Linked DNA regions of Homo sapiens: regions 1, 2, 3, 4, 5 and 6 are each linked to region 7. The links come from fine-mapping of genetic effects on gene expression. A gene starts in region 7. Each other region holds a variant in brackets. All regions are shown on one strand. Distances are from middle to middle. Region 1 overlaps DRC8 (dynein regulatory complex subunit 8). Region 2 overlaps KIF26B (kinesin family member 26B). Region 3 overlaps KIF26B (kinesin family member 26B). Region 4 overlaps KIF26B (kinesin family member 26B). Region 5 has its middle 31 kb from the start of KIF26B. Region 6 has its middle 62 kb from the start of KIF26B. Region 7 holds the start of DRC8 (dynein regulatory complex subunit 8).

Region 1 (4,067 bases), 120 kb before region 7:
AGTGGGTGAGAATTCTAAAGACAAAGGGAGAATTGCCACTACCTTACACTATCAACTTCCACTCAACCTTCTTTTCTCTAGTTCCAATGATCTCAACTCCTTTAGCTACTCCATAAATGGTGACATGCTGGATCAGCAAATATAAATGTTTACACTAAGTTATTATTATCCCAAATGATATTTGTAATTGGCACTCATAAAAAAATAAATTAGTAATATTTATTTTGATAAATCACCTTCCACACTCAGATTGATGAAGCATTTGTTATTGTTTAAAAAAGAAGCCTTCATTACACTGCTACTCGTTTTCGAGTGGTTCGTTCTGCCCCCTCTTAAGATCTTTACATGCCAAACCTTGGGTAATTAAGTCATTTTCATTTTGTCAGCTTAATTAATTCGAAGGTGACCTGAGTTTTATTGTAGAAAATAAACAACAATCCATTCTAATGTTAAAATGTTTTAAGAATAGTTTTTAAATAAATAGTAATTTATCATTCTGTAAGGCTAGACATACTAAATTTGGTTTAAAGTGTTACGATCATCTTTAAAAACAAAGTGTCTTAAAATAGTTATGTCACAAGGTATTAAATATCACATATAGGAATCCTAAGATAAGATGTGAAATTAACAAGAACAAGCAATTTCTAAAATTGTTCTTTCAATCAGAAATTATCTTTAGAACATTTAATTTTCATCTATCACCATCATTGTTATATAGTCCTTGTAATTAATTGAATTTGATTCTGGATCAATTGCAGCAGACAACATTTCTTCCATTTCCTCTTGAGAAAAAGGCTCACCTCAGAGAGACAAAAAGGAAAATTTATCATTTAGGATCATCTGATTTTTTTCTCTTTCCACTAGCCAGCTTAATAGCCATGGAGCCCCACAAGCTCCCACAGTGCCACTAGTTACGCTCCCTGGAGCTGTAGAGCCAGGACATCACGACAGTCCAGAGGTTCAAAGACAAGGCTATTGTACACCCTGGTAGATTCTGGACTTCTTTTAGCCTGCAGATGTCATAGATCAAGCAACCTCTAGAACACGTCATTTCAGGCAAAACAGTAGGAAGACATACAGACATCATGAACAAGGTTATTTATTTAGATTAAAACTTTTGAAATTACCAGAGGATTAACTTGAAGCCCCAGTATTTGATGAAAGATGGAAGGAAGATAACTGAGTGGTTAAAGCACAAGTTTGGATCCACATGCTGGCTGCCTCTCACGAGCTCTGAGATCTTGAGCAAGTCACTTCACAGCTCCCCACCTTAGCTTACCTGTCTCTAGAATGGGGGTGATAACGACACCACCTGTCACATAGGGTTGTCATGAGAATGAAACGTGTTATGATTTGAATGGGACTTAGAACAGTACCTGGCATAGAAGCAGCAACATGCAAGTGTTTGTTTAAAAAATTGTTCTGAGATCTTCCCGGCTGCTAAACACTGTCTGATGCAATACACATTCCTGGACACTTAGGGACTTCTATCTTGTAGGAACTTGATTCAGTGTGATTTATTTTATCATATGACATCCAGGGCTGTAGGAATGCATATTCTCAAACTAGTGTGTTTGATACTTTGTGGATATTAGGA[T/C]GAATGTGCAAGTAGCTTGAATCCATATTGTTATATAGCATAAATGTACTTAAAAACAATTTGTAGAATTCTGAGACTCTCAAAGCAGCAATTCTTAAGCTCCTATTTTACCAAACTAGTCAACTGCTATTACACTTAGCTGATGGGTCTGTTATATTAAATCGTAACTTAGATTTGTATAGATTTACATCTTACATATTACTTCCAAACATATTGGTTCATATATGTGGAAGGTTTGTAATAATACTTGCTGAGTGAATAATTGAAAACATATGTATTCTTATTTGACCATACCTGTCCTATGCTTAGTCCGCTGAGATACTCAATAGTTGATCTTTAAGTACCATGAACTCTCTGTAAACATACCATTTTCGAAATTATCACACAGCACCTCCAAGTAAACCACGTGGTCGCACTGTCTCTGTATACACTGCGGTCTGTTCTGACCTTTCTGTTTGAGTCAGTCTCATTACCATCATACTCGCCATCGAGGGCAAAGCCTTGGTGGTACTTTGGATTCAGCTCTCAGCTTTGTCGCCTACACTCTGTTACTCATCATGACCCATGGATCCTGCCACAGACAGTCCTATTGTACCAATCCCTTCTTCCCATTGCCATTCCCACTGCCAGGTCAGGCCCTTATTTGGGTGCCCTCAAAATGCTGAAATAACCTTCTAAGTGGCCTCCCTAGTCCAACCTCTTTCTTATGCATCTAACAAACCGACCAGCACCAGAAAAACCTTCTCACAATCACTCACACACCATGTGAGTCATCTGCTCAAAAGCCTGTAATACTTCTCCATCGCCCACAGGATGAATTCCAAACTCCTGAGCCTGGGACTCCACAATTTAGTCCCAGTAAGTCTACTGAAGTTAATTTCCTGCTGTTTGCCAACATTACCCTCTGGGCCAGCTAGGCTTATTTTCTCTCTGAAATAGCATGTTCATTCCTACCTCCCCATTTTTGTTCAGACTGTTTTACACATCGATAATGTCTCCCTCTCATTAGCCCCTTCACCTGGTCTTCATCATCTACTCATTCACTCATTCATTCAACAAACATTTGTTGATATCTACCATGTGTGACAGAATTATAATGCACAAGAGTTTACCTTTGCCCTCAACAATTTAACCATATACATTCTACCATCTCAAAAAACCTATTTTCTCTTTAAGTCTTCCCAAACCAAGTTTTCCAGGCTGGGCCAGCCCTAGTTGATCTTCTGATATTTAGCTTTCTATTGTCTTGTATTGTGAATTATTTTATGTTAGTTTTATTTCCCAAATAAGATTGTAATATCCTTGAGAGAGGAAGTAGATTTAAGTATCATTATACCTTACTACACTTACTAAATATTAAACATATAGTAGGCACACAACAGTAGGAAAATCTAACTGTTTGGGCCATTTTGACTAAATTCATGTTGCCTGATATATAACCTAGGATTTACTTTCTTTAGACTAATCCTCAGGATGAAGAAGCTGATGCTTTGAAAGTCGTAACATCCCCATCAGAATTAATCCCGAAGGTAATTTTAACAATGGCGTCAGAGTTCTTGGGTGGCAGCTGTGACGGCCTTGCCATTCTGACCCTCACTCTCTGTATTCCGCCTTAAGGTGGATGAAGCTGGAATGGTCAAACCAGTTGTGCGTGTAGATGCAGTCTTAGTCTTCCCTACTCAAAATCACTTGCGCTTTTCATTCTGCCTCAAGTGATTAGCAACTCTGAGTCATTCAGGACCCAGTCTGTGAACCAGAGAGCTCTAGCTTTGTATGGGAGAAGGCAAGGGGACCAATATGAGGATGGTTTCAGGAGACTGTCCATCAGGCTACTGACCTTCAGTGTAAACAAATTTACACATCAGCCTAGCAGAGAGAATTCCTAAAGGAAATATGTTGGCATATATATATAAGTGTGCAGGTTTTATGTGTGTGTATGCATATATGTATGATGGGCCATGTTCAAAACAAATATATATGGTTCAATTAACATTAAAAAAGGACATTTTTAGTGTTAAAAATGACCTCAGTATTCAATTGAGGCTACATTATCTGTAACTTCACTGACAGAAAAGCTCTTTAAAAGGGAATTTTTACCAGCACTGTGGGAAGCCAAGATGGGTGGATCACCTGAGGTCAGAAGTTCGAGACCAGCCTGGCCAACATGGTGAAACCCATCTCTACTAAAAATACAAAAAATTAGCTGGGCGCAGTGGCCTGTGCCTGTAATCCCAGCTACTCGGGAGGCTGAGGCAGGAGAATCACTTGAACCCAGGAGGCGGAGGTTGCAGTGAGCTAAGATCGCGCCACTGCACTCCAGCCTGGGTGACAGAGCAAGACCGGATCCGTCTCAAAAAAAAAAAAGCCGGGGCGCCGGGGGGGGGGCGGAATTTTTATATTCTTTATTCAAATCTTCAATCTAGGAAGAGGCCTTCATTTACAGTGATCGATAGTTCATGTTTTCCAGATG
Region 2 (4,067 bases), 550 kb before region 7:
CCCTTAAAAAAGGAGCCCAGGGAGCTTGTTTGCCCCTTCTGCCATGTGAAGACACAGCGAGAAGGCACCATCTGTGAACCAGAGTGGGCCCTTACCAGACACTGAACCTGATGGTCTCTTGATCTTTAACTTCTCGGCCTCTAGAACTGTACAAAATAAACTTCCGTTGTTTATAAATTTAGACTATGGTATTTTTGTTATAACGACCCAAAGGAACTAAGACAGGTATTGTCTGTGATTCTAGATTATCTACAGATACTCTGTTTAACTCAATCTAGAGTAGAGAATTGCTCAAGGGCACTTTTAAGCTGATGACTTCAACAGGGCTCATAAAGTCTAAAATGAAATGTGATTGGAGAAAAGAATTGTGTAAATTGAGAATATGGGACCAAATAAATGCTTTAGCAAGCATTTATTTAGTAATATAGTACTTTAGTATTTCAGAGTTCTCCCAAGAGAGGCAGAAAAGAGAAATAGTCAAGCGTACAGGATGCGAAGCCAACTGTGTGGTTTCAAATCTTCTTTCTGACACTCAGAGCTCTGTGGCCATGGTCAAGTTCCTTAACTTTCCTGTGCCACAGTTTCCCCAGCTGTAAAACAGGATGGTAAGAGTAGCTAGCCTCATGGAATTGTTGCAAAGTTCAAATAAGATTATCAGAACAGTTCCTGACGCAGAGTAAACACCTGGTAGGTGTTTGCTCCCATTATTGTTAAAATAAAACATTAATATGAAAACTATATCCTAAGTGTCTCCGTTTAGACATTTTTTCTTAGCAGCTTCTTAGAATATGAATCCTAAAGAGCAAGGTGAAAGGGATGCCTTTGCTGTAAGCCCTGCTACATCACAAGTCAGCTCTGAAGATTTCCCCCAGACCCTGTCGACACCACAACTGGCTGTAGAATATTGACTCCCATGTCAGTTTCAGGTCCTGGACATCCTGAATATAAGTTTTGGTTGTGCAGTTGGCTGGGAGGGTCTCGTTTCTAGTCAAAAAAGGACATTCTCAATTTGAGCTGATAAACTGGGGTCTTCCACAGCCTTAAATCAGCTGTCAGGGAAATCTCCTGTTAGTGCAGTTGCTTTGCCCTGAAAACCACCAGCTGAAACTAGATTCTTATGTCAACCATGTGTCTGCAGTTTTTGTGTGCTGGAGGCAATTACTTACTTGGTAGTTCCTCCTCTGACAGTGTGTCCCCATGCCAGATGAACAGGGACAGGACAACTGATTGTCAACCTCACCAGGATGCTGTAGGCAGTGTTCTGAGGCACTTAGAGAGCATGTGCGCAAAATCAATACATATGCAAAACAAAATGCTGTGTTAAGCTAACTAACACAGCTGGCCCACATCTAAATTGGGCATAGGCAGTATCATTTTCTTTAATGCACTGGAAATAAGTTGTGCTGGTCACAAAGGCTGACAGAGCCTGATTGCTATGTCCCTCATGCCCCCAGGCATCTACCAGCGTGGTCCATGGTCAAGATGAAAAATGGACCAGGCCGGGCGCGGTGGCTCACACCTGTAATCCCAGCACTTTGGGAGGCCAAGGCGGGCAGATCATGAGGTCAGGAGATCGAGACCATCCTGGCTAACACGGTGAAACCCCGTCTCTACTAAAAATACAAAAAATTAGCCGGGCATGGTGGCGGGTGCCTGTAGTCCCAGCTACTTGGGAGGCTGAGGCAGGAGAATGGCGTGAACACGGGAGGCAGAGCTTGCAGTGAGCCGAGATCGCACCACTGCACTCCATCCAGCCTGGGTGACAGAGCAAGACTCCATCTCAAAACAAAAAAAAAGAAAAATGGACCAAAAGGGTACAAAAGCACCTTACCGCTTCTTACAATGGGCTGTAATTATTTGTGTCTTCCTCACAAGACTGAACATTTCATAAGGTCAGGAGCCATGTCTATCTTTCCTACAACTGCATTCCCCAAAATTGCCTTGTCTATAGTGAGCACTACACAAATACAGACGGATGAGTGGATGGTCAGAACTGGCTCAAAATCACTGACACCACTGAAGAAGTAAGCCTTGTTGCATGTCTTCCCAACAGGGTCAGCCTGGGGGTCCTTCCAGTCTTCCCAGCCACAGAATGGTTTGGAAACATTGGTCTAGGTGGAGGTAGACTTATACTCAAGGATTGCGCTAGCTCAGAGGTTTTACAAGGCTATGGTTTGGAATATATCTGGATGTATAAGTATCTAAATATTTTCCAAAACAAGCCTGTCAGATTATATTAACAGACTCTTCATCATCTATAGGGAAGATGGTTATTTTTATTGTATAGAAGCATGAGATTCTGTTTATTGCTTTTTTTTTTTTTTTAAGACGGAGTCTCGCTCTGTCACTCAGGCTGGATGGAGTGCAGTGGTGCGATCTCGGCTCACTGCAAGCTCCGCCTCCCGGGTTCACGCCATTCTCCTGCCTCAGCCT[T/C]CGGAGTAGCTGGGACTACAGGTGCTCGCCACCACACCTGGCTAATTTTTTGTATTTTTAGTAAAGACGGGGTTTCACCGTGTTAGCCAGGATGGTCTTGATCTCCTGACCTCGTGATCCGCCCGCCTCGGCCTCCCAAAATGCTGGGATTACAGGCGTGAGCCACCACGCCCAGCCTGTTTATTGCTTTTTAACGGGTACAGCACAGTCCAACCTCTTAAGCATTCCCCAGGTTCACCAGTATCCTTGCTTTTCTGCCTCCATATCCACACCAACTAAAATACACCCTACAATGTTACAATGACATCATCTTATGGGTTAGGATTTCAGCTTATGAATTTAGAGGGAGACACAAACATTCAGACCACAGGGAACATTCATCCTACAATGTTCCCTAAGGGAAAGGCATGTGGTCCGGGCTGATCATTAATAGGGAAAGGCATGTGGTCAGGGCTGATCATTAATATTGCCCTTTCTGATGTAAGTTCCATGAGAGTGAGGCCTTTTATTTTCTTAACTGCCAGGAATGGTGCATGCTATGCAGTGGATACTCAATAAACACTTACAGAATGGATGGATGGATGGATGGATGGATGGATGGATGGATGGATGGATGGATGGGTGGGTGGGTGGATGGATGGATGGATGGATGGATGGATGGATGAATGGGTGGATGGATGGATGAATGGGTGGATGGATGGATGGATGGATGGATGGATGAATAGATTGTGTTTGTCTTTAAGGTTTGCTGACTTCTTAATGATGACAACACGTAAAATATTTCTTGGTATGGGTTTCTTCAGGCTATCATGTTCATAAAACAAATACAATTATTGTGTTCATTGTAATAATTGTTCCACATTATCATTAGTCTGTGTCCAACATGTGTTTTCCCAAGCCTCTGGGAGAGGGGTTTTTTGAAGTTGCCAGTCAAAGCAGATATGCTCACTGTGTTCTCTATGAGTTAAAGGTTGTAGACTTGTGCTTCATAAGGACAATTCCAAAAGTCAATTTGATTCGATTATTTTTTTTTTCCTATTTCTGGCCTTTAGAAATCACTTGCTGCCAGACTAGCTGGGGAAGGGCTCTCTCTCTCTCTCTCTCTCTCTCTCTCTCTCAGTTAGTTGAGTATTTAATTTTAGTTTACACTACGAAAATTTAATTTTTAAAAAATGTAGATATTTTTCAAAATTATATTTTCAGGGTAATTAAATCAATGATATTCTTGTACTTGAACAATATGTTCTTATTAGGCTATCAACTAATGACAACAATTCAACAATTCAATTTTAAACTTGTTCTGCATTTCTTCAAAATAAAAACATGGGCTAAACCAAATACAGTCATGCACCGTATAACGTTTCAGTCAAGGACGAACCACATATATACTGGTGGTCCCATAAGATAATCTTATTTTTACTGTACCTTTTCTGTGTTTAGATATGTTTAGGGACACAAATACTTACCATTGTGTTACAAATGGCTACACTATTCAGTACAGCAACAGTCCTACCCTCTAGCCTAGGTGTGTAGGAGGCTATACCATCTAGATTTGTGGAAGTACACTCCATGATGTTCAAACAACAACAAAATCACCTAATGATTCATTTCTCAGAACACATCCCCATCATTCA
Region 3 (4,067 bases), 710 kb before region 7:
AAAAAGGTACAAAACAGAGAAGGGGGAAAAAGGCCCCCACCTCAGCAGCTGCCCCTGCCACTGAGTGGCCACGATCATGATGGTTTTCTCAACTACTTGCCACCCTGCCACCATCCTGGCTTGGCCTCTGCCTGAGAAAATGAGCCCAGCGATGTCCAGCAGACTCAGTATCATCCAGAAACCACTGAATTGCCAGGACAAAAGCAGCAGCCAGGGAGTGACTCCTGGACATGCAGCAGGGGAGGGGCCCTGAGAGCAGGGAGTTGAGAACCTCTTTGGTGCCAAGCCTTCGAAGGACACAGTCTCCACCTACGCAGGACCGAGGCCATGCATGAGAAAAACAATATTTTCCATCCCTCCAACGTTTTTCCTCTTGAGGTAGCAATCCATTTGTACTCTCTAAAGCGGACCAAGTGCTTCCGGTCAGGGGTCCAGGCTGGGTGACCAGGGCCAGCACCAGGTGTGGGGAGGTGACATGACTTTGTATCAGCCCCAAGGTTTCCCTGCCCCAAAGTGGACCCTGAGCCACGTGTTGTCAGCTCCAAGTCACATCTCCTGATGCTGGGGGATTGGCAACGTTGATTTGGCTTTTTCTGACTCTGTTCCAGGGCACGGCTCCAAAGGCTCCCTCATCCACCACCCCCCCACCCCGCGAGCTCCTTACCTTCGTCTTCTTTTTCTTCATCCTCAAGACTCTCGATGCAATCTGGATGGTGGACAGGGTCTCCGCGTAGCTCCCGACCGCGGCCGAGATGTGCGCGATCATGGTGGTACGGCAGTTCATGTTCCCCAGAGACTCCCGCAGCAACATGGCGAGCTTGCTCTCTCTGCCAAACAAAGTGAATTAGGCTGCATTAGCGGCCATGCTTCCCTGTGGCCCTCAGGGCAGGGCTTCAGGCCTGCACACGGCCATTTTGTTGTGGGTGGTGGTCCCCCCACCCTTTTTAATGGCATACTAATTAGCATCATTTTCCAGCATGGGGCTATTTGTAGTTGGCAAGCACCGAGCAAGTGCTTCTAACTCCAAGATGGAATCTGTGCAAAGCACCTCCCTTGGCGCTTCTGTCCTGGCTGTGATGGGATGTTCCTGGGCGTGTGTGTCTGTGACATTATACATAATGAGGCCTGGGAATAGAAACAAGAGGAGGGGATCAGGAGAAAGGGCTCTGTGCCTGGTGACTCGGCTTGCTGACTGCACGTGTGGCCTTTCTCCAGGGTTTCCACACACAGACAATCTTGCAACAAAAAGGAGTCCCCCTGCCACGAACCTGGATTAAAGATCGGTGGGTTTTTAATACCTGCACAGTTCCTTTAGCCAGGAAACTGCGGCTACTTTATTGGCATTGTCCCTTAACTCGCATATTTGCACCTAGTAGCACTGAAGGAAAAGGCATTCATATTCCTGAAGACTAGGGGAGAAACACAGAGAGAGGCCCAGCCAGTCACTCTATCCACAACAGAAAGCAGCACTTCCTATAGAGAGGCCTCCTCTGGCAACTGTGCAGGTGCTGTGCGGGGCCACTGCCCTGAGTGGTGATAATGAGGCCCTGGGGTTTGCAGGGAGTGTTGCTACGTCTTTGAATAGACCTGGAGAAATGGCTGGTTTTCTGTTCCTGTACTCGTCCCAGCATTTTTCCTGCCTTGCTTTTAAAGGCCTCTGTTTATTTCATCAACAGCACTCATACTCTCAACTGCTGCCAAATGTCATTGCATCTCTGGCACGTTCCCTGATCCTGAAGGGCTGAGGAAGCCTATTTCCCATGCCGCGTGCTCATATCTCCATGCTGTGTCTGCGATTCCAGATGAGAGGAATTCGTCCCCATGTCCATGTCTCATCACCCATCCCCTGCAAAGCTCCCTGGAGAGGGACTATCCAGCTCAGCAGACACTATGGGAGACTCAGGCCACTGTCAGCAGAGAGCAGACCATT[T/C]TACACGTGACCTGCTTCTGGCCTCAGGGAGGGAAGACTGTGGGGTAAGAGCAATAGCTTTTCCTTCTCATCTGGGATCAATTAAGGTGTAAGTTTGGCGACGCTGGGCTAAAGCTCACTTCCAGAGCAATGTAAGAATATACCAGGGCTTCCCTTCCAGCAAAATGACCAGTGATGAACGTGGCGAGGTAAGGGATATAGAGGAGGAGGAGGAGGAGGAGGAGCTGTGAAAGTTTAACTCCTTCAGAACGTTATCTGTCTAGCAGAAACCCACGGACAGCCGCACTCGACGAGGAAGCCAGGCCCCATTCCTGGCACACATTCTTAGCAGAGACGTTGCACCTGGATGCGTCTTGGGCTCTGTCTTCAATATGCGCAGTGGAGGGTGAGTTCTGCTCAGTTAGGTTGTGATCATATACAGTCAGGTCTTACATGAGTAGTGGAGGGTGAGTTCTGCTCAGTTAGGTTGTGATCATATACAGTCAGGTCTTACATGAGTAGTGGAGGGTGAGTTCTGCTCAGTTAGGTTGTGATCATATACAGTCAGGTCTTACATGAGTAGTGGAGGGTGAGTTCTGCTCAGTTAGGTTGTGATCATATACAGTCAGGTCTTACATGAGTAGTGGAGGGTGAGTTCTGCTCAGTTAGGTTGTGATCATATACAGTCAGGTCTTACATGAGTAGTGGAGGGTGAGTTCTGCTCAGTTAGGTTGTGATCATATACAGTCAGCTCTTGTTATTCATGGTAGCTGTGTTCTATAAAATATTTGTGAACACTGAATTTGTAAATACTGGGCCATTGTTCTTAGGGGAAATACAGTTTGGTGCAAAAGTAATTACGGTTTCTGTCATTTCGATGACTTTTTTTTTCTTTCTTTTTTTCCTAAGACAGACTCTTGCTCTGTTGCCCAGGCTGGAGTGCAACGGCACGATCTCGGCTCACTGCAATCTCCGCCTCCCAGGTTCAGGGGATTCTCCCGCCTCAGCCTCCGGAGTAGCTGGGACTACAGGCACGCGCCACCACACCCAGCTAATTTTTTGTATTTTTAGTAGAGACGGGGTTTCACCCATGTTGGCCAGTCTAGTCTCAAACTCCTGACCTCAGGCGATCCGCCCGCCTCGGCCTCCCAAAGTGCTGGGATTACAGGTGTGAGCCACTGCATCTGGCCCATTTCAATTACTTTTGCACCAACCTAACGTATGGTTTAGGTTTCTGTGAACCTCTGATGACAAAAGTTTCTTCAACTGGTCAATACGTAACCTTGTTAATAAGATGCTTTATTTAATACGTTTCTTCAAAATAATGAATTATATTTGGTATTTCTTTAAAATAAAACACTAGCCAAGAAGGGTTTAATACTTTCCTTCCCTTGGGTAACATGATTGTACATTTCTTTGGTGTCTAGCCTCACACCAATGCTATCTATTACATTAAATGTTCTCATCATCTGATGAATCCACACATTCAGCCACTTTTCATCTCTTCCATGGCTTCCTCATGTACTATAGCTGTTACCTTAGCACTTTCCAGAGTGGCCCCACATACAGATGGGCCGAAGGCGCATCCCCCTGTATCTCCACGTGACCCTGTGTAAGTCCCCAAGAAAACATACCAAAGACCGGCCGGGCGCGGTGGCTCATGCCTGTAATCCCAGCACTTTGGGAGGCCGAGGTGGGTGGATCATGAGGTCAGGAGATCAAGAACATCCTGGCTAACACGGTGAAACCCCATCTCTACCAAAAATACAAAAAATTAGCTGGGCGTGGTGGCGGGCACCTGTATTCCCAGCTACTCAGGAGGCTGAGGCAGGAGAATGGCGTGAACCCGGGGGGTGGAGCTTGCAGTGAGCCGTGATCGCGCCACTGCACTTCAGCCTGGGCGACAGAGCGAGACTCTGTCTCAAAAAAAAAAAAAAGAAAAGAAAACTTACCAAAGACCGGATAAAAGGATGTAACGTGGTGACATCAAGCTGGCTGCCCTGTGCGCTTCCTCTTCCTTTTTCTGGGTGTGTGTATTCTTGATTCATTAACACTAGACCCCCATGAGCACTGTAGCTCCTACCTGAAAGAAGTGTGTCTAACACATGGATTTTCTCCATAAGGCACATCACAGCCTTCCTGTGCTTAGGGACCCTAA
Region 4 (4,067 bases), 590 kb before region 7:
GTCAGAATTACAGGTAAGAAGTGGTTCACACGGTTCTTGTCACAAAGAGTGACCCAACCTGGCCCCTTAGAAAACAGTTTCCTAACCTAGTTTTTGTGTGCAGATGACTGCCGTTCTCATTTCAGGTTTGCTCCTATCCCAGGGAAGAGGGGAGGTACACACACCAAATGGCTTCCCTCTGTATCGGTAGCTGCCCAGGCTGTTCCCCAAATGTCCAACTTGTCTCACCCACCCACCTACTTACTGTTGATTTGTGCCTGCGCTATTGCTGTTTCATTATTAATAAGCCAAGATGAAGCTGGAAATTGCTTTGTGCTGTTGAATTTCAGCACTGCCTCCTGTCTGTCTAATGCCCCTCGTGATAAACAGCCACCCATAGGCTGAAAAGGTTCCCAGCTCCCAGGTCACCTGGTGACTGGCCTCCGGGGTAGCACTTGTCCTGTCTCTGAGGCACTTTGGTTTCTCCTAAGGGGTCTGGGGCCACCTTCTGTTCCTCACATCTGCACAGGCTGCTATCAGTCAGGTGTCCCATGGGGCTAGAAGGGGCATGGCCTGTATCACACCTTAGCACGGCTCCCCTTAGGGGCTGCAATTTTGGAGGTGAGACCGCCCAAATCCAGAATCTTTTCTCTCCAGAGCACACACACGGGAGTCTGCGGAGGCTGTCCCTGTGCTGTGGGGACAGAGAGTGAGGGGCAGTGATGAGAGTGCGAGGAGCGGAGGGGAGTCTTCAGTGGAGGCAGCTCATTTGACAGCAGGTTTAACAACTTGAGATTTACATGTCAGGCTTCCGTGAGAGGGGAGAGACTGACAGGTTGACAGGTTTGCGTTTCCCACTTTTCCAGAAACTTATGGGGTCTCTGAGAACCTCCGTGAAGTGCGCTGAGATGTTTTCAACCTCCACACTCTGTGAAGGCAACACAAAAGCCAAGTTCCCGCTTTGCTTTTTTTTCTAACATAATTAGGAACCGAGAGTATCATAAGGAGATCAACACCCAGTAATCTCTGAATCTTAAAACAACCGCCACAAATGTCATGGCAGAATTAAAATAAAGTAATACCATAAGGTACATTTTTATCTCACAGGAAAGAAAGAAAATAGCAAGCTGTCAGGCAGCACTCCACGCATAGCTCAACAAGTCTCTCTCCTCTCTCAGGAGAATGAAAACTCCTGAGAGGCCGGACCTATGTCTGGAGGGTATCTGGGTCTCCTTCCAAAAGGGAAAAAGTCCCTGGCCAGTAGCAGATGTTCAATGAATTGAAGCGAATGAGCATCTATGTATCCACATGAATAAATGCAAAAAGGGGCAAGTAAGATACAGCCCCTTTCATCCACAACTCACGGTCTGGAGTAGGGGACACAGGCACAGTGCCTGGAGAAGGGACAAGAGGAAGGCCTGCAGGTGGCAGGTGACACGGGAGCTGGGCCTGAGGACTGAGCAGCGTGTTTCCACGCCAAAAAAACGAATGAGAGACGAGCATCCCTGGCAGAGACGACAGCAGATGAACAGACAGGGAGGCACGGGAGGCACGTCGGTAACATGTGATGCACCACTGAAATCTGTCTGGAGCCAAAACATTGAAAATACTGATTGGAAAAAAAAAAAAAATAGACCTACAGGAGCAAAACAAAAAACCTTGTTAGGCTGGGTGTGGTGGCTCACGCCTGTAATCCCAGCATTTTGGGAGGCTGAGGTGGGAGGATCACTTGAGTCCAGGAGTTCAAAACCAGCCTGGGCAACATAGTAAGACCCCCCATCTCTACAAAAACAAAAATAGGCTGGGCACGGTGGCTCACGCCTGTAGTCCCAGCACTTTGGAAGGCCAAGGTGGGTGGATCATGAGCTCAGGAATTCAAGACCAGCCTGACCAACATGGTGAAACCCTGCCTCTAATAAAATATACAAAAAATTAGGCAGGTGTGGGGGC[G/A]TGCGCCTGTCTCCCAGCTACTTGGAAGGCTGAGGCAGGAGAATCGCTTGAACCCGGGAGGTGGGGGTTGCAGTGAGCTGAGATCGCACCACTGCACACCAACGTGGGCGACAGAGCAAGACTCCGTCTCGACAAAAACCCAAAAACCAAAAAAAAAACCTTGTTACTCACCGTAGTAAAAACAGAATTCCTTAAATTTTAATTAATTAATATTCTATTTTTGAGACAGGGTCTCACTCTGTGGCCGAAGCTGGAGTGCAGTGGTACAATCACAGGCTCACCGGAGCTTAGACTTCCCGGGCTCAAGTGATTCTCCTGTCTCAGCCTTAGCTAGGATTACAGGTGTGTGCCACCATGGCTGGCTACTTTTTAAATTTCTGTAGAGATGGGGTCTCCCTACGTTGCCCAGGCTGGTCTCAACTTTGGGCTCAAGCGATCCTTCTGCCTTGGCCTCCTAAAGTGCTGGGATTACAGACATGAGCTACTGTGCCTGGCCAAATTTTAATTTAAATGCCACGTGTCCGCACACACAAAGACTGAGAAAACACACGATGGTGTTCAGTGTGCATCATATAACAATGAGCTGTTTTTCTTACATAACTGACAAGAACTCTGCCTTCACTCCGGTCAAGGATTTGAGAGCATCTCCTGTAATACTAAATTGCCTAGACAGAAAAATGCATTCAGTCACTCTCTCCCCATCTTTTCACCACTTCTTAAGCCCAAAGGTTGGCGAGATGCTGGGTCTGAGGGGCTTCTGAGTGAAACAGTGTCATGTATTTTGCCTTTTGCAAATAAATGAGTTTTCCCCGACGTTATGTTGTCCAGGTAAAGAGTAACTGAAGTAACTCAAAGTGAACATTCAGAGAGGGCAGGCAGGATGCCCTGTCCCCGCAACCTTCTGAGCTCTGATCCCTGTGGCTAGACAAACATGTATCTAGCACCTTCCTTGTCCAGGAGGGACCTGGTTCAAAGAAGGACAAACTCTGCACAGAGAAATAAATGCCCACTTAGAGCCCAGCATGGCAAGAGGCCTCAGGGGCAGGAGGGAACTTCCTTGGGGAAGCGGGGTGAAGGGATAACATCCAAATTAAAGCTTGAAGAAGAAGGATGAATTCAGAGCAAAGGAGGAAGATGGGGAGGGCCCTGCCCGGGCAGGTCAAAGGCCCGAAGGTGAGAGAAAGTGTGTCCTCTTTGCAGCACCAAAAACTACTCACTGGAGTCAAGGGGGCAGGCGAGAGAAGCAGGAACTAGAGGCCAGGGAGCCAGCCCCCTGCAGCCTTGGGCTGGGGAATTTGGACTTTGGACTAAGGGCAATGGAGAGCAAGGAATGGGGGAGCCATGTGACCAGCTAAACAGGAGTGGAGTGAATAATCTTGTTTGGAATGGAGGCAGGGTGGCCGTGGGCTTCTCCAAGCTCAGTCCCCTACAGAGTCCCCTACTGAGCCTGGGAGTCACTCCAGTCCTCCAAAGAGAAATCTACGAGGCTGTAGTTGATCACCCACTGGCCCTGTGTCTAAGCAGTCATCCGTTCCATACTGCTCCAGCTTTGATGCCAGGACCCTACTTTTCTAAGAATCAAGGGCGTTCGCAGTATCCAGGATGGATTTCTCGCTCCTGAAACCCAAGGTTGCCAGTGACCAGCCTCCTAGTAACAGCTGCTATTCCCCCTCAGTTCTACCCTCTGCCTATTTGAGCTTGGAGGGCTGTTGACTAAATGCCTTACCTCTAGTTAGAGGGACATGCCCTGAGATTGGCCTCAGTTTGGACCTTTAGCCAAAATTACTGTAGCTCACCTGTGCTTCTTCCCCTTATAGGTTTAAATCCTAGCTGGAGACCTAAATATGGACTCACCTCACCTGATACCCATCTCTTGAACAGGCGTCTGAAGCTTCTGCACCCATAGATCACTCTGGAATTTTAGTCCCAGCCTCTCCTGGTCTGGAACATCCCACCAAGCGCTGAGCTCCTAGGACCAACAGAAGGAAGAGGTGCTCCCACAGCCCCAAACCGGGCCTCATACCCCACTTTCTCCAGCACAGTTATTGGAGCCTCACAATTACCCTCTGAGGAAGTATGATTCGTTTTCCTGTTTTGCAGATAAAGAAGTTCAGGCCCAGAAAAACTGAATATCTTCC
Region 5 (4,067 bases), 160 kb before region 7:
CCGGCGTGGTGACTCACGCCTGTAATCCCAGCACTTTGGGAGGCCGAGGCGGGTGGATCACGAGTCACGCCTGTCATCCCAGCACTTTGGGAGGCCGAGGCGGGTGGATCACGAGGTCAGGAGATCGAGACCATCCTGGCTAACATGTGAAACCTCATCTCTACTAAAAATACAAAAAATTAGCCGGGCATGGTGGCGGGCGCCTGTAGTCCCAGCTACTCGGGAGGCTGAGGCAGGAGAATGGCGTGAACCCGGGAGGCGGAGCTTGCAGTGAGCCGAGATTGTGCCACCGCACTCCAGCCTGGGCGACAGAGCCAGACTCCATCTCAAAGAAAAAAAAAAAAAAATGGGCAACCAGCAGCCCTCGGAGCTGCTCTGCCTATGGAGTAGCCATTCTTTACTCCTTTGTTTTCTTAACAAACTTGCTTTCACTTCACTCTATGGACTCCCCCTGAATTCTTTCTTGGGCGATATCCAAGAACCCTCTCTCGGCGTCTGGATCGAGACTTCTTTCTGATAACAGTCCTACTATCTGTGGAAGCCCTAGGGTCCTGAGGAACTTGTGAGGACAATCTGGCTTCCTGGGAAAACCCTCAGCCCCAGCCACTAACAGGGCAGGACATATGGGGAGGAAAGAGCCTTGATATCATCCCATATGTTGAAAAACAATTGCTATTCCAACTACAGTTGCTTCTGCCTTCTAAGGCAGGTGTCATGATTCATGTGATGTGAAGATCAAGTCCTTGCCTTCCCTTTGGCTTAAAAAGATTGCTGATGGAAAACTGAGAGAATTTGATTGAGTTGAGGCATAGGATAACCACCAAGTTTGTGCAGGTGCTTGCAGCCCTAAGGGGAGAGGTGCAGAATGGGTGGTCCCTTGCTAAGCAGAGGCTTTGGAAATGCCGCAGCAGGAGGTGGGAGAGTGGAATTGCTCTAGGAGGTGAGACAAGGAGCTGACATTGAGCCAGAGAGGGAGAGCCAAAACCTGGGGGAAGGCTGGGCTACAAAGAAAGGACAGAGCCAGGGAGAAATTTCCCACAGCAGTAATGGTGAAAAACACTTTTTTAAATGGGCGAATATCATGGATGCTCGTAGCAACATTTTCGTAATAGCCAAAAAGTGAAAACAGCACAAATGCTCATCAGCTGATGAAGGGATAAGCAAACATGGCATCTCCAAACAGTGGAACGAAGTGGTGTGATCCTGAGTGGGGTCTGTGAAGCACAGCAGGCTTGGCCAGCCACGGTAACCACGATGGGTCCATCGCTGGATGGGACCAGAAAGTGAATACGCCGAGGCATAGGGTTGTAGCAGAGAAAGAGGTTTCATCGTAGGGCCACCGAAGGAGGAAATGGGAGGAAACGTCAAATCCATCTCCCTGAGGAGTTTGGGGCTGGGGTTTTTAAGGGTTTGGGAGTGGAGACTGGAGTGTGGAGATGGTTGATTGGTCGAAGTGTGCAGGGTGGAGTCATGGGAGAGGGAGACGAAGCTGTATTTTCATGCTGATCACATTCCTCTGTGGGGGTCTTCAAACTGGTTGGTGTCGGCTGTTTTGCTGGAATTCAGGATCTGAAAAACATCTTAAGCAAGTCTTAAACAAAAATCTTATGATTCTAATGTCAGAGATCCCATCTATTTTAAACAAAAGCCTTGTGATTCTAAGGTCAGAAATTGTATCTATAGGAACAACGGGGATGCAAATGTTACCTAGTGCTACGTCACTGTTGGTTACAAGGAAGTGGGTCAAAGTGCAGGCTGACTGATGCTTACTTACAACTATATTTCTGTCCAGAATTCTTCTTAATCCTGTGAGGATGGCTCACCATATCGTGCTCAATCATGGTGCCAAAATGCCTGTCCTGGGGCTGGACACCTAGAATTCCCCTCCAGGCCAAGTGACGGAGTCTGTGAAGCTTGAGAACGTTGCCACTGTCAGCAAGCTGCGGTGCTCATACCATGAGAAGAGCCTGATAAAGGAGCCTG[T/C]CAGAAGACCCTCAGGGGACCACCTGGATTCCTACCTTATTCACTGGCCAACAGGCTATTTTTCCTGTTGGATGGGACAGACAACGTGGTACCTAGTGACACCAACTTCATGTCACATGGGTGGCCACATGGAGGAGCTGGTGGATGAAGGGCTCTGAAAGCTTTTGGAATCTCCAACTGCAGCCATCTCCAAGAGATGGTAAAGAAACCTGGCTTAAGACCAGGTGTGGTGTCTCAGCCTGTAATCCCAGCACTTTGGGAGGCCAAGGCGGGAGGATCACTTGAGCCCAGGAACTCGAGGCTGCAGTGAGTTATGATCATGCCACTACACTCCAGGCCTGAGTGATAGAGTGAGACCCTGTCTCTAAATATATATATATATATATGACAGACAGAAAAAAAGAAACCTGGCTTAAAAACAGTGGTTAACCACAGTGAGTGCCACCTGCACCCACCTCAGGAGAAGTTAATCCAGGGCTGCCAATCCAAAGGCAAGGTGGTGACTGCCTGTAGTCCCCTCAGCTCTCGTGACAGGTCTGGGGGATCCCAGCACCAAAGCAATCACAGCCAAGCACAGTAAAAAAAATAAACAAATAAAAACGCAGCCCAGGTTCTGATCTGGTTTCCCATGCATAGGAATTTGGTGGTAATTCCTATCATCATTTCGGTGGTGATGCTGGAACGCACTGCTGAAAACTTGGAGGACTTCGACTTTCAACTGAGCAGCCTGATGTGACCACTGTAGTCAGCTACAACAGGAACGGGAGGGTCTGTGTCTTGGTGAGCTGTGCCTCCTGCAAGGATTACCCCTTCAACACTGAGCTTTAAAGCTATAGGTACCTGCTCTTCCCCCAGTGCCTTGCACCTCTTTTTCCTGCCTCAGTTTTTCTAGCAAGTGTAGTATGGCCTGTGTCCCTTAACGGCGGGTCAGCAACCTGCAGACTGGCCAGCACGGGTGTGGTCAGGTTGATGCTGTGTCCAAAGAGCAGTTTGTGTAGACGAGACGTCTCTTCCAGTTTTCTTTGCCCTTTTTCTTGTCCGGCTGGGAGAAGTACATCCTGAATACCCTTTTCCAGCCAAAATGAAGCAAAACCTACGGTCCAAATAGTGCCACTTGGAGTTGCGTTTTGACTGCTGGAACTGTAATCCCTGTAGCCAGTCTCCTTGCCTCAAATAAAAAGTGAGGCTTTTTATTTGTGAGCTTAACAAAAAAGAATGAACTAAGGATATACATTACAACATGGATGAACCTCAAAAGCCTTACACTAAATGAAAGAAGCCAGACACAGAAGGCCACATATTGTATGATTGTGTTTATGTGAAATGCCCTGAAGAGGCAAATCCACAGACACACAGGAAGATTAGCGGTTGCCCGAGGATGACGGTGGGGGAAGGGGAACTGCTATTGGACATGGGGATTCTTTTTAAGATGATGGAAATGCTTTGTAAGTAGATAGGAGTGATAGTTGCACAGCACTGTGAAGATACTAGAATCCATTGAATTGCACACTTGAATGGGGTGAATGTTGGCTGGGCACAGTGGCTCACATCTGTAATCCTAACACTTTGGGAGGCTGAGGTGGCAGGATCGCTTGAACCCAGGAGTTTGAGACCAGCCTAAGCAACATAGCCAGACCCTGTCTCTACAAAAAATAAAAAAAAACATTAGCTGGGCGTGGTGGCATGCACCTGTGGTCCCAGCTACTCAGGAGGCTGAGGCGCGAGGACCCCTTGAGTCCAGGAGGTCGATGCTACAGTGAGCTGTGATCATGCCACCTGCATTCCAGCTGGGGTGACAGTGAAACCCTGTCTCCAGAAAAAAAGTGGGGAGGGGATGGTGAGTGTTGAGGTATGTGAATGACTATTATATAAGCTGTTGTTTGTAAATGGGCTAATATTAAAATTTAAACTGTGTGCTGTCACTTGCTACTAAGTCACTCTGCCTCGTTTCTTCACCCTTCGTTCAAGGTGTACCACATTCAACGCCATGCTTCTGGGTACTTCTAAGCAAATGTTTGGATGAATATGGAGAGAAGAGAACAGCTAGACAAAGCAAGATACAGAGAGGAGATCAAGAGTTAAGG
Region 6 (4,067 bases), 120 kb before region 7:
GAGTTAAATCTCATTGACATCTTCCTGGGGTCCATACAGCAGAAATGCATGTACCAGGAATGCACGTATCAGGAAGGCAGGCGGCTGTCCTGAAGGAAGCTCGGGGAGCCTTCGCTCGTGTACTCATTCCACCTTGCTTATTTCCGTGCAATCACTAACCGTACAGGTGGCCAACTGAGTGAAGGATTTGCAGATGTTATTTGGTTTTAATGACACCAGTCCTCAAAAACTGATAAGAGGCTTAAAAAGTTCCTAAAAAGTAACCTCGAATTGAAGATATCCCAACACCTAAGCACAGGGGGGTTTTCCGAGAACAGTGGGGCCGACAATTCCACCAGGATGAGCTCTTCATCATGTTGTGTAAGAACAAAGACAGGCTAATCGGATTTGATAAAGAAGAACTAAGAAAACTTAAACATTATCAAGACTAGTTGGAAAATAGACTTACCTCTATTCTCATTAACAGTGAGCTTTGCCTAAGTGCGGATCATACCTTGAGTTAGTAACCAGGAATGGTTACCAGCCAGCAAGACAGTTTAAAACTAGGCATTCAGAGCATGGAAACACATCTTGACATGTTTAAAAGCTGTATTTAAAGTCATGCAATACTCACCTATACTTCAGTACATTTCCTAAGTTTGGTGATAAATGCTTAGAAGCCTCTTTTGAGATTTCTTACTAATAGCTGAAAACTTAATGCCGGGGCGTGTGGGGGGAGCCAGCAAGATATATTTGGCATTTTGACCTGCCACACATATAAAACCATGGCCCGATTTTCATAGTGTGCTATTTTATCTTATCTCCTTCTCCACAGAACTAGGTTTGGCCTCAATTTTTCAACTTGTGATTTTTCTTTTCTTTTCTTTTTCTTTCTTTTTTTTTTTTTTTGTGAGATGGAGTCTTGCTCTGTCGCCCAGGCTGGAGTGCAGTGGCACCATCTCGGCTCACTGCAACCTCTATCTCCCGGGTTCAAGCAATTCTCCTGCCTCAGCCTCCCGAGTAGCTGGGATTATAAGTGCACCACCACGCCTGGCTAATTTTTGTACTTTTGTGGAGACGGGGTTTCACCATGTTGCCTGGGCTGGTCTCATACTCCTGACCTTAAGTGAACCGCTCACCTCAGCCTCCCAAAGTGCTGGGATTACAGGCATGAGCCACTGTGCTTGGCCTGATTTTTCTTTTTTAAGAAAAATAACAGTTTCTTCAAATGATTAAGAGTGTTTTCTCCACTAGATGAGGTAAATAATTCCTGCTGCTCTAAAAGTACCATGACTGATAGCACATTTTTAAAAGAAGAAAAAAAGAAACCTCTTAAGGCCTCCTGTTTTCACATTCTAGAAATAAACTTAACGCCTTATAATTAATAGCACCATGACAGCAAACCTCGGCTATCTCCCCACCAGCAGCCCAGGTATGCGCACGTTCTCTCCAATTAGTTTTCTATTATTTACCTACTTCCCCACCTCCCTGTCCACACCCAGGCAGCAGATCTCCATCCCTGCCCCTCCCTCTCTCTTTTTCTCTCTCCCTCTCTGCCTAGCTGGCTTTCTGTAAATAATTATTTGTGTCATAGCTTACAGCTTTTTAAACATTTTCACTTTTATTATTTCATTTAATTTTCACACCAGCCCCGAAAAGTGTTTTTTCCACTTTACAAATTAAGATGCAGAAGCTCAGCAATATTTTTTTATTTTTTTGAGACAAGGTCTCTCTCTGTCACCCAGGCTGAGTGCAGTGGTACAATCATGGCTCACTGTAGCCTCGACCTCCGGGGAAGCTCAGCAATATTAAATGTCTGGGCCAATTACGTAATCAGTAAGCAGCAGAGCCTAACTCCAAATCCCACACTTTCATTCAATATCAGAGCCCCAGGTAGTGCTTTTTACACACAAGCGTGCATAAGGATCCCCTGAGAATATTAAAAATATAAGTTTCCTGGACCCTACCTCCAGAGATTCTGTTTCAGGGGTCTGGAATGGGGCACACCTCCCATTTCTAACACCCTCCTTCCAGATGCTCCTGAAGCAGATGATTGGCAACCATGCTTTCAGAAATAGGCAGGCCTAGGAGGCAGCCACCATGCCTGGCACCCATGAGGCTCTCCGTTTATTTAAGCAGCCCAGGAGGGTAAGGTAGTGACACTGATCTTCAAGGAACTGTCTGTATAAACAGGGTACTTTCTTACATGGAAGGATTTAGAAAAGCGAAAGGAAGGAAGACAGGAAACTAGGAGAGAGAGATCTAAACACATTCCATCCCACAGAAAATACTCCTGCCCTTAACGAACAGTCGTAATCCCAACTAGCC[T/C]GCTATCTTGGACTCTTTTTTGTCTCTTGGGCATTTGGTACTTAGACACTGGGTGACTGCAAAGGGGACTAAATCTCTGCATTGCTTCTCAGGAGGGAGAAGGACTAGAGCTGGGCTCTCTATTTTACAGACAGAGGTGCACAGGAAGTGAAGCGCCTGATCCAGAGTGAGTCACACATGAAGCTGGGATCAGAGCACAAGATCGCCAGACTCTCAGGCCTGTGTGTCGGGTCCTGAGTCATGCACCTTCCCCAGCAGTGTGAGAATAGAGATGGCTTTCCACAGGGCCCGGCCAAGCTGTGGGGTATGGCAGGCTCTGCGGAAGCCAGGAGTCATGAGGGTAAGCAAACTTCCTGCACAAGAGGCCAAGCACTCTCCTAGTCGGGAAATGGCATATGGTGACTTACATCAGATGCTGCGGGCGAGGTCAGTGAGCTGAAGAGGCAAAATACACATTGAAGTGATTTGAGTGTAAAGGAAAATGTTCCCTTTGCAAACAAGGTACGTTTATTCTGCAACTTAGGAGATAAAATGAGATTTCTGTGGGGAGTCTATGTTGTGCTTTCTGGTGGCCTTAAAAGAAACAGACAAATTTGTGCTAAAGATAAAAATGAATTACATTCCACAAAGCCAACTCTATGAGACTAAACAGAGAGGATTGCCTTGAGACAAGATGTGAAGTTGAACATCAGTCCGAACTTTTGAAAGAACCCTCGAAGGTGGGGCTGGGGAGGTAGGCAATCTCGACGCAAGCTTCCTCTACTGCCTTCTGTGCAAGAGGGTGTCTCCTCGGAGACAGAATATGATGTCATCACTTGATCATCAAGAGATTAGGGTTCATTCACCAGACTGTACTTCTTTAATGGCTTACAGGTCTTAACGCAGAGCTGTCCTGTATGCTCCAAACAAGTCCGTGCCTGGGTCGACGCACTGGGCGCTAGCACACGCCTCAGTGCTGCATGTCCGTGCTGGCCCCTGCCACCGAATGACATGCCCCTGGGTATGCGTCCACCTTGAAGGGTATTTCATATCTCAGCCATCCTCCTTCCCCGCTGCAATGTGTTCCTATCATCAACAGCCTGTCTGCTGATGTTCCGAGGATCACCACACTCCTTTCCTCCTCCGTCTCCGCCCTGTCCTGAAGGCACGCGGTTCATCCTCATCTCTGGCTGGTGATTCTAGCATGCACGGCCGAGCCAGTGGCACATCAGGTCTCTATTTGGATTTTACCTTGGGAAAATCTCAGGTTATCCTGGGGAAAAAAATGATCTTGGGAAACTAGAGAAGGAAGAAATGCCTTCCATTCTTACCACTGCTGGAATTATCTGTCAGGAAGCCTTCCAGAAGTGACGATTCCTCACCACCGTTTTTACTCACTATTTTTTGAATGGGATGACCACATATTAATCATCTAAACTGGAACATTTCTAAGAGTACAAAGGAGACCTATTAATAATTACACTGGGACAGGTATAGTCTGGAACTACCACGGGCAAAGCAGGACAGACGGTCATCCTACCTCTCTAGGCCATGAGTAGGACAAAGACACGTAGGCCAGAGTCCAGGATGACCCCAGCTGACCAAAAAAAAAAAACGTAAACAGAAATAAGCTTCATTCTTGCAAACCTCTGACACGTGGGAGTTTTGTTATCACAATATAACCTAGAAAAAGCTGATACAGCCACTTACTGCTGTGTAACTTCTTGATTGTCACCTTTCTAAAATGGGGATAACTTAATAGCACCTGCACCGATGGGTGG
Region 7 (4,067 bases):
GTTTGGGTGTGTGTCTTTTTTTTTTTTTAAGACAAGACACTAGGCCAATTGCGCGGCGCTAGCCGGCGGCGGGGCAGGCATTTCGGAGGACCGGGAAGCTCGGAGGCAGCGGCTGTGACCTCCAGACCGTCCTCCTGCGTCCTCATTAAGGAGGCAAAATGGTGGCCGCGAACGCCATCAGGCTGCGCCAGCGCGGGGTTTCGGCGCAAACAGAGGATCCCGTCAGATTCAGGCGGCCAGAACTCCTCCTCACCCAGGCCACCCCCCGGGGCCCACAGCCTGGACAGCTACGGGCGTGGCGCCTGCGGCACCGAGACCCCAGGCGAGAGTGTGGAGGCGGCGGCGGCTTCCCCGCGACCGTGAACAACGACGCCATTATCAGCACCCCCTGCCGGCGCCTCCGGCGCAGCCCGCGCAGGATGCAAGGCCCGGCCTCCGAGGGAGGGGGAAGGAGGACGGGGCGGGAGGAGGGGAAGAGGGTGAAGAGGGCGGGAGGAGAAAGAAGAAGGCGGGAGGAGGGGAGAGAGAAGAGGGAGGGAAGAGGGGAGAGAGGCGGGGCGGGGCGGGGGAGAGAGGCGGGGCGGGGCGGGGCGGAGCGGCGGGCCGGGCGGGCTACGGGGACGGGGGCAGGGCGACTGCTGCTGCCGGGTGGCCCCCTCCTCAGGCCGCCCTTTCCCTGCGGGTGGGAACTCCAGATGGACGAGGGCCCACCCCACCCGGCGCTTCCCCGTGCAGCCCGGGGTCGCGGCGGGCGGCGAGGGCAGCGGCTCCCCGGCTCCCCTACCTTACCTTCCCTGTCCTTCTCGTCCGCCATCTTGCTGCGGAGCCGGTCGCCTGGGAGATGCCTAACGATAACCTCGGCCGCGGTGTCCCGGCCTGCTCAGCGCCCCGCGGCGAGCCTGGCCTGGAGGAGGGGCCGCTCTGAATCCCGGGGGAGGAAGACCCTTGGGCGGGGCGGGGCGGGGAGGAGGCTCCGAGCGCGCGCCCTGTCCCCGTTTCGCGCCACGACCCTCGCGCTGGGGGAAGACCAGAGGCCCCGTCTGCCACCCGGCCCCCGGCCTTGTCCCTCCAGACCCGAGGCCGGAGCCGGACTTGTCCCGGGCCTAGCATGTTGCTTCATCACACGGTCCCCAACCCCTCCTTTCCCTTATTTCTCATCCATTTGGGGACAGCACGCGCGCGCACACACCCCTCGCCCCCTCCTGTCCTGTTTGTGCGACGTGGCGTTGCTCGATTTTTGTTGTTAACTGCAGATTTTGAAAAGCGCCGGAGAGCTAGGTGAAGAGCTGGGCTCCCAAGGGGGTGATAGAACCAGCCCGCGGCCCGGCCTCCTCCTCCCGCTTCCCATTCGCAGCCCGCCTCCCGCCGGGAAGCGGCCCGGCTGCTGCAGAACGGCCGCGCCTGCCCTCCCGGTTTCTCCCGTCCAGTCTTCACCGTCCTTTCCCAGAGAAAGCGACAGCACAGCCTATGACAACCGAAGCTAAAACGGAAAAACTGGGCCGGGCGCAAGAGGAAACCAGAGCCATTCGACTATTGCTAGAGGAGAGGAATAGCTGCAGGAAAACATGCGCAAAATAGCACAAACATTGCGTCGTCAAGGCTGCAATGTCTAATACAAAATAGAAGGTTCTCATAGCAACAAAAACGTGCCCATGTTGTGCTCAGTATTACATGCGTTAAAATGTTCTTAGTTGTGAAATTTGACATGACCGCTAGTTAAAGTTACAATGGAAGTTTTAAATCCCGCTTTCCGAAAACTTTGCAGCTATAGCATGAAGTTAAATTTTTGTCTTATTTTCTGGATAAGTTTACTATACTGGAACATAGTAAAGCTCTTTTTATAAAGAGCTTTGAATAAAATACCTAATGATGTGGTTGAAACGAACACCTATTTTCAAAACTAATCTTAAGTGGTATTTCAGTGCATATGTTATGTAAAAGCAATTTATAAACTAAATTTTAAGAGCCTTCAAAATACAAGGTACTCGTATTTAATGACTTAACAGTTTTAATGCTTTTATTGTTTCTATAATCTCTCAGGAAATCCTAAAACTGACTATATTTTTCTTTATTAAAATAACTTTTTCTGTAGAAGATACCCATTTGGCGCTGTGATCAGCATTCTACTTGAAATTGAATATAAACAACTGAATCATTACAAAATGGCTCATGTTAGAAGATACTTAAAACGAATACAATCTTGTACAGTAAATGTTTAACACCCCAAAATAACGAAAAGTAATTATTAGCATTCATTTATATCTAAATCTCAGTCAATATGATCTAAATATTTGTGTTTAAAGACTCCCCCTTTCCATATAGATAATGAAGGGCTTTGAAATAAGTGTAGGAAACCCTAAGTTTGGTCTCAGGCTTCCTATTCATTCACTATGCTTTTTCGTGTGCTGTTTACAGTTTCCTTTTTCTGGAATGCCTTTCCCTGCTTTTTTCCCCCGCCAACATTTCAGCTTCCCACAGACACACATTTGTGCCCTCCTGGTTGTCCTGCAGGATGACCTTTGTTTTTGTTTTTGTCTTTTGTTTTTCGAGACAGGGTCTCGCTCTGTCGTCCAGGATGGAGTGCAGTGGTGTGATCTCTGCTCACTGCAACTTCCGCCTCCCGGTCTCAAGTGACCCTCCCACCGCAACCTCCCAAGTAGCTGGGAGGAGCGGCGCGCGCCACCATGTCTGGCTAGTTTTTGTATTTTTTGTAGAGACAGAGTTTCCCCATGTTGCCCAGGCTGCTCTCAAACTCCTGAGCTCAAGCGATCTGCCGCCTGCCTGGCCCTCCCAAAGTTCTGGGATTACAGGTGTGAGCCACTGTGCCTGGCCAGGATGACCTTTTTGAAGTCACCTAGTCATTGAAGCTTTCCCTCTCAGCCTTTTCCTCTGTGGCCCCATGCTTATAGAGCCTCCCACATTGATTTGCAGTGCCTTCGTTCGTTCACTTTATTTCCACCTACCAAACAGTAAGATCTTGAAGACAGAAACGGCATTATTCGTTTATATATCCCCGGTATCTAGTACAATTTTTCTGTTTGCAATAATAAATGTCTTAAAACTTAAGAAAGGAGTAAGTCTTCTCAATGACTTTTTTTAAAAAAGACCCAGATTCAGCACTTATTGTATGTAAGACAGACCTTCCTTTTACATTACATTTTTCATCAGTAAAAGTACTGGGCCAGGCGCGGTGGCTCACGCATAATCTCAGCACTTTGGGAGGCTGAAGCGGGTGGATCACTTCAGGTCATGAGTTAAAGACCCACCTGGCCAACATGGTAAAACCCCATCTCTACTAAAAATAGAAAAATTAGCCGAATGTGGTGGCTCACGCCTGTAATCCCAGCTACTCGGGAGGCTGAGACAGAAGAATCGCTTGAACCCAGGAGGCAGAGGTTGCAGTGAGCCGAGATCCGCCACTGCACTCCAGCCCAGATGACAGAGCAAGACTCCATCCCCAAAAAAAGGTACTAGTATTTCATGTTAATAAAATGGAATTCTTATATAAACATATATAAATTAAAAATTATTTTAAGAGTTGAACAGATTTCTCTGCAAATCCCCCTATATTTTTATATTTTTTAAACTAACTGTATTCAGCAAAGCTTTTTATTATTTAATTTATTCCAAACCACATTAATCAGTATTTCTCTGAACTCCTACAGCACATTTAAAACAGTACTGTTTCTCTAGGTGTGGGTGAGTAAAAAAATATTTAATATATGTTAATTAACTTCCGCATCTCCTGACCCCACTAAGGTTTGAATAGGAGCCTCCCCCTTTATAAACCCTTTTTATATACCCACACTACCTAGCCTAATTGGGGCACATATTAGCTGCTTCATACATACTTTTCAACTGCCTAATTTGCTGATTAGGCATAAAAGTATATAATTCTGGAAAAGTCTCCACAAGGTGAAAATGATTATCCAAATAATAAAGGCCCACAATGCCAGTGAGTACATTATCTGCATTATGCTGATATTTGACTCCTTTCAACTCTCTTTGGTTGTAGAAACATGACCGATGATTATATTACACTTTTAACTCTTTAAATATTATTAGCT

Evidence for each region.
Region 1: its variant is fine-mapped to the expression of DRC8 in whole blood (INTERVAL, PIP above 0.99).
Region 2: its variant is fine-mapped to the expression of DRC8 in kidney cortex (GTEx, PIP above 0.99).
Region 3: its variant is fine-mapped to the expression of DRC8 in prefrontal cortex (GTEx, PIP 0.98).
Region 4: its variant is fine-mapped to the expression of DRC8 in cerebral cortex (GTEx, PIP 0.97).
Region 5: its variant is fine-mapped to the expression of DRC8 in whole blood (TOPMed, PIP above 0.99).
Region 6: its variant is fine-mapped to the expression of DRC8 in fibroblasts (GTEx, PIP above 0.99).

The regions. Positions count from the first base shown.
Region 1 is chr1:245,083,978-245,088,044 of GRCh38, reverse strand. It overlaps DRC8 (dynein regulatory complex subunit 8), which reads right to left. Exons shown (of 8, transcript NM_032328.4): 8 at 208-800. The coding sequence ends at 685. Among named protein-coding and RNA genes, the nearest start is that of KIF26B, 69 kb to the left of the region's middle. RefSeq lists an enhancer at 1,735-2,934. The variant T/C (reference allele first, on the strand shown) is at 1,598.
Region 2 is chr1:245,519,599-245,523,665 of GRCh38, reverse strand. The region is part of intron 4 of KIF26B (kinesin family member 26B); the gene reads right to left. Among named protein-coding and RNA genes, the nearest start is that of KIF26B-AS1, 290 kb to the right of the region's middle. The variant T/C (reference allele first, on the strand shown) is at 2,434.
Region 3 is chr1:245,680,993-245,685,059 of GRCh38, reverse strand. It overlaps KIF26B (kinesin family member 26B), which reads right to left. Exons shown (of 15, transcript NM_018012.4): 11 at 665-827. LOC105373265 (a long non-coding RNA gene) reads left to right here. Exons shown (of 6, transcript XR_007066988.1): 4 at 609-2,315. Among named protein-coding and RNA genes, the nearest start is that of SMYD3-AS1, 430 kb to the left of the region's middle. The variant T/C (reference allele first, on the strand shown) is at 1,931.
Region 4 is chr1:245,557,423-245,561,489 of GRCh38, reverse strand. The region is part of intron 5 of KIF26B (kinesin family member 26B); the gene reads right to left. Among named protein-coding and RNA genes, the nearest start is that of KIF26B-AS1, 320 kb to the right of the region's middle. The variant G/A (reference allele first, on the strand shown) is at 1,930.
Region 5 is chr1:245,122,207-245,126,273 of GRCh38, reverse strand. It overlaps a transcript of DRC8 not described here. Among named protein-coding and RNA genes, the nearest start is that of KIF26B, 31 kb to the left of the region's middle. The variant T/C (reference allele first, on the strand shown) is at 1,984.
Region 6 is chr1:245,090,519-245,094,585 of GRCh38, reverse strand. It overlaps a transcript of DRC8 not described here. Among named protein-coding and RNA genes, the nearest start is that of KIF26B, 62 kb to the left of the region's middle. The variant T/C (reference allele first, on the strand shown) is at 2,308.
Region 7 is chr1:244,967,166-244,971,232 of GRCh38, reverse strand. It overlaps DRC8 (dynein regulatory complex subunit 8), which reads right to left and starts at 1,551. Exons shown (of 8, transcript NM_032328.4): 1 at 1,190-1,551; 2 at 790-904. The coding sequence starts at 814. It overlaps LOC124900416, which reads left to right and starts at 663. Exons shown (of 4, transcript XM_054328428.1): 1 at 663-907; 2 at 909-978; 3 at 981-4,067. The coding sequence starts at 696. The coding sequence ends at 1,247. EFCAB2-AS1 (EFCAB2 antisense RNA 1) reads left to right here and starts at 364. Exons shown (of 2, transcript NR_111907.1): 1 at 364-421; 2 at 1,254-4,067. RefSeq lists enhancers at 1-258, 2,697-3,201 and silencers at 429-518, 529-888, 899-1,078, 1,349-1,488.